Linked DNA regions of Homo sapiens. The protein of the gene in region 1 purifies or fractionates together with the protein of each later gene. This does not show direct contact. Each region holds a gene or a part of one and is shown in the gene's direction. Other genes may lie near its edges. The genes, in order: RNFT1, HADH, ABHD13 and SQLE.

Region 1 (3,643 bases):
CATTTTGATTTCTCCAAATTTCACTGAGGGTTATTGACATCACATCTAGTTAATGACTAAGTTCTGAATCTGGTGAGGAGGTTAAAATCTTAGAGACGAGTAACTTGTTATTAGGACATTAGAAGAGAAGAAAATTCAAATAATTGCATTTTTGTTCAGTTAGTTTTGACAGTAGTTATTCTACCAAAGCGACATTTACAGTTGCAGTTTCTCCGTAAAACTTTTTTATGTTTAGCACTAAATGCTTTTTATAATTTCGAATAATTTTTAGACCTAGTGGCAGAAAATTCTTCAGTGGTCCCTAAGTCTTCTTCATATTGCACTCACTTGGAGACCTTTCAAATAATAGATTACTGGGTCACATCCCAATATGTCTGGTCCTAGTGAATTGATATTGTGTGGAACAGAGAAATCTATTTTTAAAGCAAGCTTTCCACATGAGTTACATTCAACCAGCCAACCTCTGGCTGGATTGACTTTATGAACCACTGCTGCAGGTAATAAGCTCAATTTGGCAGTCCTGGGTCAAATAATACATGGCTATAGATTTTATAATAGTTACATTTCAGATTGCTTAGTCTCTTAAGCCAGTTATGTTGAATTTGAAGCACTATCATCCTTTGTAAAGCTAGTAGATCTAACAATCTTTCAAAATCCTATTATGTATTATTTAATGATTTCATTTTGGTGCACTCAAGAGGTGGTTCTGTATATGGCTCAGCTTTGAGATGTTTGTATCCTTTGGGAAGTTTTTCAAATGCCTGGTTCCAGGGAGATTTGAGAAGTACAGCATTACTTATGTAATTTGAGGAACAGGAAAGAAAGAAATTTGTAGATGAACAGAACTTACTATCTTCATAGAGTTATGGAGTGGCTGCCAGCAAGAGACAGTGTTCAGATGTGGATGATATTTGTTCAATATGTCAAGCTGAATTTCAGAAGCCAATTCTTCTCATTTGTCAGGTAATTACATTTTTAAATTTAAAAACCTAAATACAACAGTTCTCTGTGACTTGCAAAAGTCAAATTTATGTTTGCTGTAAGGCAAAAAAAAAAAAATCTAGTGTTTAGTGGAAGGTAGCATTCAGGGTACATACTAGTGGATTGGCTAAGTTTTGTCCCTTATGTTCTGATAATTTTTATGCAGAGGAGCGTATGAAGGGGAAAAAATAATTCAACTGGCAGATTGAATACCAAAGTGATTAAAAAACAGGCTATTTTATAATTGGATACTAGCCATGTAGAACAATACTGACATTTGTTACTGGATTGTGGCCCTTTCCTATACTTTATGGCAGTTACTAGTAACTCAAAGACCTTAAGCAGTTATCATACTTAATCTTAAAGGTGTCACCTAAGGATAGCTTTTATGGTTAAATGGATGGTACAGCCAGAACACTAGTGGCTCTACCAATCATACTGCTCTTTGTCTTCTTGAATGTCTCATACGTTCTCCATTTTCACAATTGTAAAATGAGGGGATTAGTGCTCTTCAAAATCCCTTTCAGGCTGGACACAGTGGCTCACGCCTGTAATCCCAGAACTTTGGGAGGCTGAGGTGGGTGGATCACCTGAGGTCAGGAGTTCAAGACCAGCCTGACCAACATGGTGAAACCCTGTCTCTACTAAAAATAAAAAAACTAGCTGGGCATGGTGGTGGTGGTCACCTGTAATCCCGGCAACTTGGGAGGCTGAGGCAGGAGAATCACTTGAACCAGTCGGGGGCGGAGGTTGCAGTGAGCCGAGATGGTGCCATTGCACTCCGGCCTGGGTGACAGAGCAAGACTTCAGTCTCCATCTCAAAAAAAAAAAAAAAAGAATCCCTTTCATTCCCTACAATGTGATGGATTTAAAATGATTATCAAATATCAAATCTAATTCTTAATTCCATTACAGCATATATTTTGTGAAGAGTGCATGACCTTATGGTTTAACAGAGAGAAAACATGTCCACTCTGCAGAACTGTGATTTCAGACCATATAAACAAATGGAAGGATGGAGCCACTTCATCACACCTTCAAATATATTAAGTTGTATAAACTATCAAGGCCACAAAATACTAATGTCATTTGGTCATAATGACTACTGATAAGGCATCAGAATGGATTTTCAGGGCTACCAGAAAAATGTTTCCAGATGGTTTTAGAATGTAGGACTTATGATCCAATTCACCAAAAGATTAAATGAAACCACCCTGTGTTTTAAAATATATATAATGTTCAACCTAATGTATATGCAACATTTATTCTATTCTAATTATTTGACAGGTAACTGCAGTGTTAAATTGTAAATGTGTTTTCTTTATGTTACCAAAACAGCAATTTGAAATTAGAACTAGTGGTTTTAGAGAACTCAGGTATTCTTTCCTGACATTGTTTTCAGAATAAAGAATATTTTTCATAATATTTTAAGATACATACTATCTAAAAGTAGAATTTTGTTCAGCATTGACTTTTATAATTCCCATCCTAAAAATTCTTAATATTTTCATAAAATTTGTATTTTTAAATGAAAATTCTAAATGTTGTATTTTATCAGTAACATTTTCTAAGTGAAGATTAATTTACTGAGGATGATACATTATAGTATTGTATTATTCTCTGTAGTAAGATTAGTAATAAGTGAAAATAAATGATTTAAATTCATTTTGTCTCTGGACGTCATAAATTCTTCCTGCCATCAGCTTTAATGTTCATGATCATGCTTTTTGTATAGTACCATGGAGTATCTCGAAGTAACTATTAAAATAATTCATGTGGATTATAAACAGCTGGCTTACTTGATGATTTGAATAGTATAGAAAACAAGACAAATGGCCAGGCATGGTGGCTCACACCTGTAATCCCAGCACTTTGGGAGGCAGAGGCAGGAGGACTGCTTGAACCCAGGAGTTCAAGACCAGCCTGGGCAACATCCCATCTCTATTTAAAAGAAAAAAGTTTCAAGACAGATGCCCTAAAATCTTATAAAAAATTGCCCTTATAATTAGTCTTCTCCATAAAAGTTTTGGAATTTTATGCTTGAATCACCATCAATTGGAAGATTGAAGCTCGCACTGAGAGGTGGTCATGAGGTTTTGATAGTGTGGTTTGTTCGCCTCTAGGTATTTGTGCAGGGTGCTAGAAAAGAGAATGAAGCACTTTCTCCCCTTGTTACCTCTAAGGAGGAATCTGAAATCTAAAACATGTCTGAAGGGCTGCTAGTGCTTATATCCAAGTTTAGAGTACATCTATCAGTTTGTAGTCGAGGAAAAGGTGGTAGAAAGAACTTAGGAAGCAGAGGTAGAAAACAGATTTGCTGTACTGATAAGACAAAAGCTAAACTAGCAAATGAATTGTTTAGTTTAGCAAACTGACCAACTGGTTATAGAAGGCACTTCCATGACTGTACAGCCATCCAAATTGACAAACAAACATTAGGAAGCCTGTACCATTTTTTTCTCTCCAGGTAAATACTACCAGGTTGTAAGTACAACTATATTCAATTACAGTATATTTTACTCTGTTATCTACTTTGAGACCCACTACAAATATTATTTAAATGGCTTTGTGGTGATGCTAATAGTTGTATTATTTAGGTATACGGCAGAGGATGGGTGAGAAAAGCAATGTGGGATTACAATTCGGCTGTGAAGGATAGCCA
Region 2 (4,142 bases), on another chromosome or scaffold:
CATTTAGCTCACATTTCCTGAGTGCCTGCTGTGTATCAGGCACTACACTAGGCTCTTTAACCTGAATTGATGCAAAACAGATATGAGGTGTGAAAAGAAGGCATGACCCATAGTCATACCAAAGATGTGACTTTGCTGCTGACCTTCTCCACCTTTCTTGGCACTGTTTGTTTTTGTTTTAGATCACCACCATTATTGAATGCTTGCTACAATTTTTAAGCAGCCGTATTGAGAGGTACTTTACTGACAAATTTTACAGTTCGATCCTATAATGGGAGAAGAAAATATAGTCAAGTGATACATTTCGGGTTGGAAGCCCTGATGAAACAGTTGCATCCTGGAGAGAACATGACTTCTCTAGCAGCAGCCTAAGACACACAAATGAAAAGTATGACCAGACGCACAGGCAGCCAGATCGAAGTCCTGACTTTCCCCTTTAGACAAAGTACAGACTCTTGAATCCTTTGCCATCCCCACCAACCCTCTTGTCTTCTTTATACTAGGGTCTGGGGCCATTGCTAATAATCACTGTGCTTGTGTTGTCGATTTTCTTTTAGAACATTTAAGAGAAAAGTAGTTTTTTTGGTACCTGAGTGTCCGAATGAAAAAAACAAAAGATGGTTCAAGACAAGTGTTTCCAGGAACATGTAAGAGTACTTTTTTTTTTTTTTTGAGACGGAGTCTCGCTCTGTCGCCCAGGCTGGAGTGCAGTGGCATGATCTTAAGCTCACTGAAACCTCTGCCCCCCAGGTTCAAGCAATTCTCCTGCCTCAGCCTCCCTAGTGGCTGGGATTACAGGCATGCGCTACCATGCCCAGCTAATTTTTGTATTTTTAGTAGAGACGGGGCATGTTGGCCAGGCTCGTCTCGAACTCCTGACTTCAAGTGATCCACCTGCCTCGGCCTCCTAAAGTGCTGGTATTACAAGTGTGAGCCACCGTGCCCAGCCCAGAGTACATTTTGTTTGTGGATGAAAAGACTGTCCTATGTGTTTAGTATTCTCTGAAGACAGTGTGAGACTTTTAGGAACAAAGTCAGCCTGACCCTGTTGGGAGAGGCAGAAGCAGAGGTCTGCTGGGGAGAGATCATTTCCTCCTTCTGATAAAATGTGCCAGAGTGCCCTGGACTGGTGATACCTGGAACTGGGCTCTGATGTCACTTTATTTTACCAAATGTGCCCAAGTTTCCCCTTTTTGCAGGTGAATGGCCCTTCAAACATTCTACAAAAAGGGGTATTACGATTGTAATACTAATCTTTAAAATAACACTTTCTTTTCTTAACGGGAGTGTGGAGCCACAGCTGGCACAGCCTTGGGCCCAGGCTGTCCCTGCTCTGTTTTTGTGGTTCCAGGTGCTTGTGGTGCAGGTTGTGTGGTTGAACAGTGCTTGTGTTGGCCACACACATTGTTATTGGAAGAGGATCTTTTTTTCATTACCTTCTGTAATGGGGAATAGTTTATATTATTTTCCCCAATGACCAAAAGCAAGAAACTTTGAAAACTGAAATTTTAAGACCTTAAAACAATGTCATTTTTTTTTTAAAAAGGAAACCCTGGCATTTAAATGGCCTACCTTGGAAGCTGTTGGAGAAGGTGGATGTGCTCATACCTGGAAAGAGAAGGCTCTCCGCTGCCTACCCACACTGGTCTCGCCTTTTACCTCTTTTCCCTCCTTTCCAAATAACTGGTTTCTTCTCCCTTCTCTTCCTCCTCTCCTCCCACCCGCCCCTGATTTGAGCAGATTATAGTATTGCCTGTTAGGTAAGCAGAAACCCCCAAGCCTGGTCAGTAAGGGATCCTTTCCTTTCCTGCCCTGTTACAGTCCATCTTGGTTGGAATCAGCACCAGGCCTGTTTGTATGTTTTTATCCGCAAGGTGGCGCTGCAGGAAAGCCTGGAAGTCAACCTGTTTAAAGCTTTTCCTCTCATGCTTTTGGCACGCCACTTTACTGTGGCCTTAAAGAACTAAATTTGGTTTAAGTCAGTATGGATTTTTTTTAATGAATAAGTTAATGTCTTATATATGCATATGCCTATATCCTCTTTTCCCCATATCTACCCATGTAACCTTAAAATTTTTTTGAACCATGTTGGTGTTCTTGTTTTCATTTTAATTCCCATTCAATTGAAAAATAAAGCTTTTCACTTCAGGGAAAATATCTTAATTCACGTTTATTATCATATGTTTCTGATTGAGGATTTATGTGTTCATTTAGAATTTTGTTGCTTTTAGGTGTCTTTCTTTCATTATTTTTTGATCACTGAGTTTCGTTTGTGACTGGGGTTGGTTAAGTAGCTTGATCAATTAGCCACCTCTTGTTATCTCACATACCTTGGAAGTTAACTAATACAAGTAGGTAGGGGAAATTTTGTTCTGGAAAATCAAGGAAGGATTGGTGAAGGTTAAATACCTCTTCGGAACAGGAAATTCCAATTTTATTTCAAATTTAAAAATTTTTAAAAAGCTGAAGTCACTTGATTTCAGCCTCTTATATGAAGATGTGTCTTCTCCCTCATTCCCCCAATGGGTCAGGACAACAGATGTGGCAGTAAGCAGTCACCTTGTGCATTGCATCCAAGAGTCATGCTGTTTTGAAAGAAGAGATTCACTCTGATACTCCCACTATATTTTCTCTTCACAGACATACAATCTTTGCCAGCAACACTTCCTCCTTGCAGATTACAAGCATAGCTAATGCCACCACCAGACAAGACCGATTCGCTGGCCTCCATTTCTTCAACCCAGTGCCTGTCATGAAACTTGTGGAGGTCAGTGGGTGTCAGCTTGTGTGTGTCTGCCCGCTCTGCCAGCTCTCTCAGTCCTGCTTTTCTGTGTTACACCAGCCCTGCCACCAGTTGCCTAGGATGGGTTTTAACCTGAGGGTAGAAGGTTGTCCCTGAGCCTCATATCTAGGAGGGCTTCTATGCTTTGTTTCTTCACAGCCCTGTGTCTTGCTTAGTGATATCCAGAAAGGCTGTTAACTTTGTGGAATGTCATTTACTTATTTGTGCCAGAGCTGATGGGCAGTGCTGAGAGGCATCAGAATGGGAAGGCAGCACTAGAAACCGTGGGCTGGATGGGACCACACAGAGGGCAGCTACATGTGTTCATATTATCTCGTCGAGGTCAGCTTGCCCATGCTGTAAATGCAGTTCTCATTAGATACACTATACTAGCTTGTCCACAGTTCCTGGGGTTAATTCTGACCCCATGTAATGGTGCCTTAGCGTTGTCCCCAGATGAGGTACATCTCCTGTGCATTGTGATCAGAGCTATTAAAACCAGCTCCCATTGGGTGCGGCGGCTCATGCCTGTAATCCTAGAACTTTTGGAGGTGGAAGTTAGTGGATTGCTTGAGACCCAGGGGTTCAAGAACAGCCTAGGCAACATGGCAAGACCCCATTTCTACAAAAAATAAAAAATCAGCCAGGGGTTTTGGTGCACGCATGTAGTCTCCAGTACTTGGAAGGCTGAAGTGGGAGGATTGATTGAGCCTGGGAGGTTGAGGCTGCAGTGAGCTGTGATTGCACCACTGCACTCCAGCCTGGATGACAGAGCAAGATCCTATATCGAATAAAAAAACCCTAAAAGTAAAAAAATAAAACCAGCTTCTGATAGCCTTGAGCCTCCTGACCATAAACCTGGAAGGTGGAGCGGGGAGGCAGGGAGGGCTTCCCCAGCATCCTGTTTGGAATGCTTGGAGACTCCAATATGTTGGAGTTGGAGTCACAGTAGGCAATTTGCACCTGAAATGGGACAACTTGCCTTTTACAGGGTCCTAATTACAGGGTCTGAGGAGCAGCCGCTATTAAAGTAGCATTTGTTCTGAGGTTGAGGAGTTATTGCCCTGCGAAGTGTGGGGGACGCTGATGCTGCCATGTGGGTGATGTGGGGCCAGGCAAACCTACACACACTGGCTGTGGCCTCTCTGGGAGTGTGTATCGTCTGTTTTCTTCATTATTGCCTTTTCCAACTACCTTTTCCTTCCTTTATCCTCCTCATTCCCTCACCACTACTCAGCATAAGCATTTTTAATAAGTCATAATAATGACCATTTTTTTTAGCATTTTCTCTCAAGTGACAACTTTGACCATCTTGCAATGGGACTTTTTCTGTCTTACTAACATTGCTTCTCAGCTTCCT
Region 3 (3,818 bases), on another chromosome or scaffold:
TGGGAAATCAGAAAAATGTTGGTTTATGCTCAAAAAGGTTCAGTTCATTTGAATAATAATTCAAATGTAAAAGTCTATGTTTAGTGAAATAATAGAAAAAAATCAAATTTGTTAAATCATCCAACTCATTATTTGTATAATCAATCTATAACCTCTTTATAGCAGTTTGGTCAGTGGGAAAGAAGGAAATGTAGTATTTTTAAAAGTTCAGTAAATAAGCATAAGTAGACGAATAGTACATAAGAAAATTTGTAACATATCTCAATTCTTTTGCCTTTTTAAGACAACATGTATAAACCTTTTGATAACAAAAAATTCTCTTTTAATAGTTTTTACTTTCTTTATATCAGTTAACATATTTTAGTAATCTTTTTAAGAATTGTTCTCCAGTGAGTCATTTTACTTTATTTATCTCTGTTTCTCAGAGGATTTCTGTGTATTTGTTTCACACTGAACCCTCAAGTATTTATTGCCTTATCAATACATTTTAGCAATCTATTGACCCCAGGACGTGAAACTTCATTAAAGAGTATATAAAAGATACTGCCGATCTCATGACACTAGCAATATGATATTTATTTTTAATTACATATGAAAGATAAATCATTAATAATTTTCTTAAAACTAATACAATATTAGAATCTAGTGTTTAAGCAAATTATTTAAGTTTAGTATTAAAACTTCGAGGTAGAGGGGGGATACTTTTATTCTTTCTTTCCCTAGTTGTTTTTTTTTGTTTTATTTTGTTTTGCCCAACTCCTTACCCTAGTTTCTTTAGTTTTTGCTACCGTATGTGAAAAAAATTGACAAAGTATATTAGATTGGTCTTGCTATGTTGGAATTTCTGAACTGCCTTTTCAGTACAGTTTGCCCTGGACATACGTAACCTAACAGCAGATGTACCACAATCTCTAGAATCATGCTTGTTTGCCTCCCAGCTCTTCTACATTGAGAAGCAGATGATAGCCAGTCTACTTATGCCCCTGAGCTTCTGTTTTCTCATTAAAAAAAAAAAATGACACTATCGCATCAACTTTTTTTGGGTCAAATCCGTGAGAACACGTATATGAAGAATAAGCACTTGTTAAAAATGAGTTAATTTGAAGAATATTAGTGTTTCCTAAATATGACAGTGGAGGGATATGGTAGAAAGGAAACTGTTGAGAACAGAAAGGACAAGGGAAATTATAGCAGCTACTTTTGTGGATGGACTGTACCTATTACCATATTTAACAATTACATGTGGCCTAGTACCATAGTTTATTATATTGTGGATTTTTAAAAGAATAGATAGACGTTGAATTATTGATATTCTCCCTCTCTCTCTCTAGGATACTTACAGAGAGCTACAATGGAAAAGTCCTGGATGCTGTGGAACTTTGTTGAAAGATGGCTAATAGCCTTGGCTTCATGGTCTTGGGCTCTCTGCCGTATTTCTCTTTTACCTTTAATAGTGACTTTTCATCTGTATGGAGGCATTATCTTACTTTTGTTAATATTCATATCAATAGCAGGTATTCTGTATAAATTCCAGGATGTATTGCTTTATTTTCCAGAACAGCCATCCTCTTCACGTCTTTATGTTCCCATGCCCACTGGCATTCCACATGAAAACATTTTCATCAGAACCAAAGATGGAATACGTCTGAATCTTATTTTGATACGATACACTGGAGACAATTCACCCTATTCCCCAACTATAATTTATTTTCATGGGAATGCAGGCAACATAGGTCACAGGTTGCCAAATGCATTACTTATGTTGGTTAACCTCAAAGTTAACCTTTTGCTGGTTGATTATCGAGGATATGGAAAAAGTGAAGGAGAAGCAAGTGAAGAAGGACTCTACTTAGATTCTGAAGCTGTGTTAGACTACGTGATGACTAGACCTGACCTTGATAAAACAAAAATTTTTCTTTTTGGCCGTTCCTTGGGTGGAGCAGTGGCTATTCATTTGGCTTCTGAAAATTCACATAGGATTTCAGCCATTATGGTGGAGAACACATTTTTAAGCATACCACATATGGCCAGCACTTTATTTTCATTCTTTCCGATGCGTTACCTTCCTTTATGGTGCTACAAAAATAAATTTTTGTCCTACAGAAAAATCTCTCAGTGTAGAATGCCTTCACTTTTCATCTCTGGACTCTCAGATCAATTAATTCCACCAGTAATGATGAAACAACTTTATGAACTCTCCCCATCTCGGACTAAGAGATTAGCCATTTTTCCAGATGGGACTCACAATGACACATGGCAGTGCCAAGGCTATTTCACTGCACTTGAACAGTTCATCAAAGAAGTCGTAAAGAGCCATTCTCCTGAAGAAATGGCAAAAACTTCATCTAATGTAACAATTATATAATGTTTCCCTTTTTGATTATTGCATTGTATTTTAATTTGTGCAGAATGATAAAGAATGTTCCTTTTAGAAGTGTGTTATGTCTGTACCTGTCTGAAGAGTGACATTAAACTTTGAAAGGACTTCACTGCTCCTTTACGATATTCCAAATAGTTTTTTACATTGGAAAAACTAATTCTTGGGATTCTTTCATACATTTTCATCAAAACTTTCAGTGTGATTATGTATTCATATCTTCAGTTTAATATGTCAGTATAATAGATATTGTTCAAAAGTTTCTTGTTGCTAAAGTGGTGTAATCTGTTACACAGATGAATAGCTAGATGTGGAAAGAGATATGTAAACAAGAAACCTTTGGGTATTGTTTCTTAAGTAAATATTGGGACAATCATGGTAAGCAAACTTAGTTCTGTAACTGCATTTTTCACCTTAAAAGTTAAATGAAATGCATGATGGTATTTTATTCCTTGAATTATGCAATGCAACATTTTACATGTAAATAGCACTGGTCATATACTGATGTATATGGTTATCTGGGTTATATCTATTTTTATGTAAACTCTATTTTGTTTTTGGCAAGAAGTGAAATTGAGACTTATGTGCAGGTTGCCATTGAATTTTGCTCTGGTGAATGCTGAGATCCAGCTTTTTCTTACAAATAAATGGGACCCTGTTTTCCAATACAAATGTACCGTGTTTTTGTTAGGTACAGTCTGGATCATGGCATGTAGAAATAGAAATTTAGAATTTTACTGCAGCTTTGATGTGCATATTTGAACTTTTTAACATTTGTAACTTTGGTGGCAAAGAGAATTTTAGCTTCTATCGATTTTGTAAGTCTTCAGCTGAACCACTAATAGCAGTCATAGTGAAGATTAGCACTACTTAGAATTAAATTAGGAAGTCTTTTATCATTGCAGGATTGTACATACTACTTTATAAAAATTCTCACCTTTGATTTTAAATCCCAGTACCTAGTTATATCTAACCTATCAAAGGCAAGATATCATTTATTGGACTTCTTGAAAATAAAAGTTACAAAATCCAACAACAACAACAACAAAACAATGTTCTTGGTTTTAATGTTCCAGTTGCTGTGAAATAGAACTCCTACAATCAAAAGACAGTTTTAGGAAGTCTTATTTATTGATTTTAAAAGTTTTACATGTAGGAGTGTGGGAATGAAGGAATTCTGGAGCTTTTTGACACAAAACCTATTACCACATTTAGCAGTTAAATGGCTATAGGTGGGAAGTAGGATTTAGATGTATAGAAAAGTAAGAAAATCTTACTTAGAAAAAAGCCCCTTGAAACTTGCAGGATTTACTTAATAAAAATACACGCTATGAGTCATAATTGTGCCAAGTTGTTTCATGCAGTCCTCAAAAATTAGATGTAATTGAGCTTTGTGTAATATTATGTCAGCTTTAACATATAATATTTTGAATATTTTAGC
Region 4 (4,142 bases), on another chromosome or scaffold:
TGGAGTAGGAAAATTGGGTTACCAGCAATCAATATTGGTTCCATTTTGTGAACGCCCCAGGCTTTCTCTTTATTTTTTTGTGAACCAGGGAGTTGTTAGATTGTGATCTATTGACTACTAAGTTCCCATTAGTGCTTACTCTACTGATCAGGCTCTGCAAGGCCTGTTTTCCTCCAGAGCTCTCCTTTCAGGGTGTGTGTGTGTGTGTGTGTGTGTGTGTGTGTGTGTGTGTATATAAAACAGGAAAAACTTATGAAGAAGCACATTTTTGGTTAAGATGACAAAAGGGGCTTGTCTTGCCCCCTACAGTAATTTAAATATAGTCAGTTCTGGCCATTAAGACATACTAATGGGAAGAGTAGAATATTGAGATCTTCCCATAGTAAAAGGACAGAAAAGTATTTTTCTGAGAGAAATTAAAAAAAAAAAAAGAATAGACAAATTCCCAGTCCACTATAGAGGTAAAAGAATGCTGGGTGGATATTAGAATCACAGAGTAAAGTTCTAAAGGATTTTAGGCTTCGTCTTCCTTTTTGCTTGATTATTTTTTAAAAACCCCTTCAAATGGCATTTAGTCTTATCTTAATCATTAAGGTCAAAGAACTCAAGGAAGGTGGTTCCTTGCAATTCTGTATCTGAAATGTATTCAAATGTGTGAATCCATCTACCAAGAAGAAATACTACAAAATTGAATTGTTCATTTTAAAAAGCCACTGTGCACTGTTGTTCTTAGTGGTCATAAATCTCTCAAAACAAGACTTTGCATCTTTTTATGATCAAAGTTAAAGTTTTGCTGTCAGTTCAGCCAGTGACAGGTTTAATGTTTTTCCTTGTTCCTTTTTTGGGGACCACCTCTTTGACTAGGATCTCTTAGAGTATCAGGATGGGGAAAAAGGAGGGATAAATTAAATATGTGCTTATATGTTAAGGACCAAAATTGTAAACAAGTCAAATCTAAGAGTCGGTATGAGTTATTTCTTCTCTTGTAATTTTGTTTATTTAGATAATCTTCAATTAATAGATTGGTAGGCAGGATTTGACAATCCTTTTGTCATATAAAAGTGATATTAAATTAACATAGATTTTTCAAATGAAAATCCAGAAAGAGAAAATAAAGATGAATAATGAAAATATCTAAGGCCGCACGCAGTGGCTCACGCCTGTAATCCCAGCACTTTGGGAGGCTGAGGCAGGAGGATCACCTGAGGTCGGGAGTTCAAGACCAGCCTGACCAACATGGAGAAGCCCAGTCTCTACTAAAAATACAAAATTAGCCGGGCATGGTTGCACATGCCTATAATCCCAGCCACTCGGGAGGCTGAGGCCAGAGAATTGCTTGAATCCAGGAGGCGGACGTTGCAGTGATCCGAGATTGCGCCATTGCACTCCAGCCTGGGCAACAAGAGTGAAACTCAGTCTCAAACAAACAAACAAAAAAACAAACAAAAAAAAGAAAATGTCTAAAAGGTGCCGAATAGTTTGTAACATGAACTCAAATCAGAAGTTGTAAGTGATTTGCATCTTGTCGATTCCCAGGATATATTTGAAGAATTTAGTTATTAATGATACAGTTTGCCCTATAATAAGTCTTTGAAGCCCCTTATAAACATTTATTATATTCGGCCCAGTGTGGATTTCTAAATATGTCTGTATAACATTTTCCAAATATCATGTTTAGAAAACAATAAATATTTAATTTTATTGGGATAATATGACACACTTTTATTTAACGAATATTTTGATATCATTGATTTTTATATATTATCTAGATTTTAAAATGTAACAATTTGTTTGGTTTGATAATATTTAGTATCTAGCTTTAGCCTAGGATGCAAAAGTCCAGTGTGTCCACATAGCGGTAGCATGATTTGAATCTAACAAATTTGGATACCTAGTTTACCTTTTTTTTTTTAAACAGCGCAGAAAAGGAACCAATATTTCAGAAACAAGCTTAATAGGAACAGCTGCCTGTACATCAACATCTTCTCAGAATGACCCAGAAGTTATCATCGTGGGAGCTGGCGTGCTTGGCTCTGCTTTGGCAGCTGTGCTTTCCAGAGATGGAAGAAAGGTGACAGTCATTGAGAGAGACTTAAAAGAGCCTGACAGAATAGTTGGAGAATTCCTGCAGCCGGGTGGTTATCATGTTCTCAAAGACCTTGGTCTTGGAGGTAGGTTCATATTGATTTTCAGGAGAGTTACGTGGTATGAACAAGCACTCTTCACTTAGACCATCCTATGACCAGTAAGAAGGTATTCCATTTTATTTTCATTTATAAAATTTTCTATACTCATTTACCAACAAATTTGCATGAAAGTGAGAGCAAAGGATAAAATAAGCATTTAATAGTATGATTAGATGTGAATTAGACTTAATGAGATATAATAAAATGGCCAAAAGATTGTAATGGTCAAAATTAAGGACTGGAAAATCCTAGAATGAGGGCATTAAATTTTGTGAAAGGCGAAGGGAACTGTCATTTGTAGAGGGTATGTTGTATACTTGTTACAGTGTTATTACTTAGAATCTTTTATTTAAGCACCATTCATCCATTCAACCAGTGCTTTTTAAGCACTGGCTATTCATTTAGGAAATATTTATGCACTGTCTACTTTGTGTGGGGATGGGGTGGTGGGGTGGGGTGGGGTGGGGAAGGTGGGAGAGACACAAAGAAGCAAGCCCTCCCCTGTCTTTTTTTCCAAGGGCACTAATCCTATCGTGAGAGTCTACCCTCATGACCTAATCACCTTCTAAAGGCTCCATCTCCAAATATCATCACATTGGGGATTAGAGTTTTAGCTTAGGAATTTTGGGAGGACACAGACATCCAGTCAATACCATATTTGAACATTTTATGTCACTAATATATATACTAGAGTCCACTTTTTCACTTGACAGAAACATATTTCCAATACTGTTAACCATTCTTTATCAGTATCTTTTTAAGCCCAAGCATAGTTGTTTTTCAGTTGACTTCATAATGTACTTCACTTTTCAAACTTAGATGAATGTTTAGGTTATTTTCAGTTATCCTTTTTTAGGTAACACTATAGTGAACCTATTCTTGCATGTAACTTTAAAGATTATTAAATATTATGTCTTTAGGATGAATTTCTTACATGGATTTCCAAGAGTAAGATTATTACATCGAAGGATGCTAATTTCTTCATGGTTCTTGATAATTATTGTTATATTTTCTAAAATATAATATTAGTTCATAGTATCACCAGTAGTATATGAATTTATCAGTTTTATCATAATCTCATCAGTGATTTTGATGGTGTCCTGTTGTTTCAATTTTTACTTAATTTTTTTTATCGTTTGAACATTTTTTCTGATTTGTTCACTGTTTCTATATTGCTTTATATGAATCATCCATACATGTTTTTGTCCATTACTATTGGCGTCTTAATATTTTTCCAGTGGTTTTTAATGAGTAAATTTTATTATATATACATGTATTAATCTTTTGTTCTATTTCATATGTCTTTCCCAAAGTATTGTTTTAGTTTTTATTTTTAAAATTAATTTTTTAACTTTCTAATTTTCGGTTGGCACTTTAAAAATGTGATATTTTCTATTGAAAGTTTTTTATTTTTCAACTGCTTTTGCTGCTTTAGATTTAAGAAAGAAGTTTTTACATGATTCTGATGAATTCAGTGTTTTGTTTGCTGCCATTTAAATTATTTGATGTACTAAAAAGTTCTTTGCAGTTTGTCCTGAGTCACTTTTAATGGATAGTATGTAATCATCAACAGTTGGGGGATAACTCTACCCTTTCCATTTGGTTTGGAAAATCTACTTTTTCATATATTCAGTCATTATATATAAATTGGGGTTTTTTTTTGAGTTTCCATACTGGTTTTATTTTATTTTTATTTCTTTTTGGTGACAAATCTACATATTCATACATTGAAAGAAGTGTTAAGAAGGACTAAATGTGTTCCTATGTCTTTATGGCAGAACAGGTTTACTCAGGAGAGGATTATGGTTTATTTCATGTTGCATTTTCTTTCTGAAGTTGAAGTGGAATTACAGACCTGAAATAGTTATGTTGTTATCTTTAAATGATATTACAGATTTGCTAAGACTCTCATTGACTTCCAGAAGCATTCACAGTTTCTGAAATAGTTACATTAGT

What was found.
Region 2: the proteins of RNFT1 (region 1) and HADH purify together in Homo sapiens (affinity purification with mass spectrometry, with the first as the bait; one large-scale study listed by BioGRID). This does not show direct contact.
Region 3: the proteins of RNFT1 (region 1) and ABHD13 purify together in Homo sapiens (affinity purification with mass spectrometry, with the first as the bait; one large-scale study listed by BioGRID). This does not show direct contact.
Region 4: the proteins of RNFT1 (region 1) and SQLE purify together in Homo sapiens (affinity purification with mass spectrometry, with the first as the bait; one large-scale study listed by BioGRID). This does not show direct contact.

Annotation. Positions count from the first base shown.
Region 1 is NC_000017.11:59,951,365-59,955,007, reverse strand, and holds the end of RNFT1 (E3 ubiquitin-protein ligase RNFT1), read left to right. Parts: intron 1-861; coding exon 862-963; intron 964-1,896; coding exon 1,897-2,031; 3' UTR 2,032-2,768; downstream 2,769-3,643. UniProt on the Homo sapiens protein: E3 ubiquitin-protein ligase that acts in the endoplasmic reticulum (ER)-associated degradation (ERAD) pathway, which targets misfolded proteins that accumulate in the endoplasmic reticulum (ER) for ubiquitination and subsequent proteasome-mediated degradation.
Region 2 is NC_000004.12:108,016,900-108,021,041, forward strand, and holds part of HADH (hydroxyacyl-coenzyme A dehydrogenase, mitochondrial isoform 2 precursor), read left to right. Parts: intron 1-2,640; coding exon 2,641-2,767; intron 2,768-4,142. UniProt on the Homo sapiens protein: Mitochondrial fatty acid beta-oxidation enzyme that catalyzes the third step of the beta-oxidation cycle for medium and short-chain 3-hydroxy fatty acyl-CoAs (C4 to C10).
Region 3 is NC_000013.11:108,227,868-108,231,685, forward strand, and holds part of ABHD13 (protein ABHD13), read left to right. Parts: intron 1-1,331; 5' UTR 1,332-1,351; coding exon 1,352-2,365; 3' UTR 2,366-3,818.
Region 4 is NC_000008.11:125,001,258-125,005,399, forward strand, and holds part of SQLE (squalene monooxygenase), read left to right. Parts: intron 1-1,918; coding exon 1,919-2,171; intron 2,172-4,142. UniProt on the Homo sapiens protein: Catalyzes the stereospecific oxidation of squalene to (S)-2,3-epoxysqualene, and is considered to be a rate-limiting enzyme in steroid biosynthesis.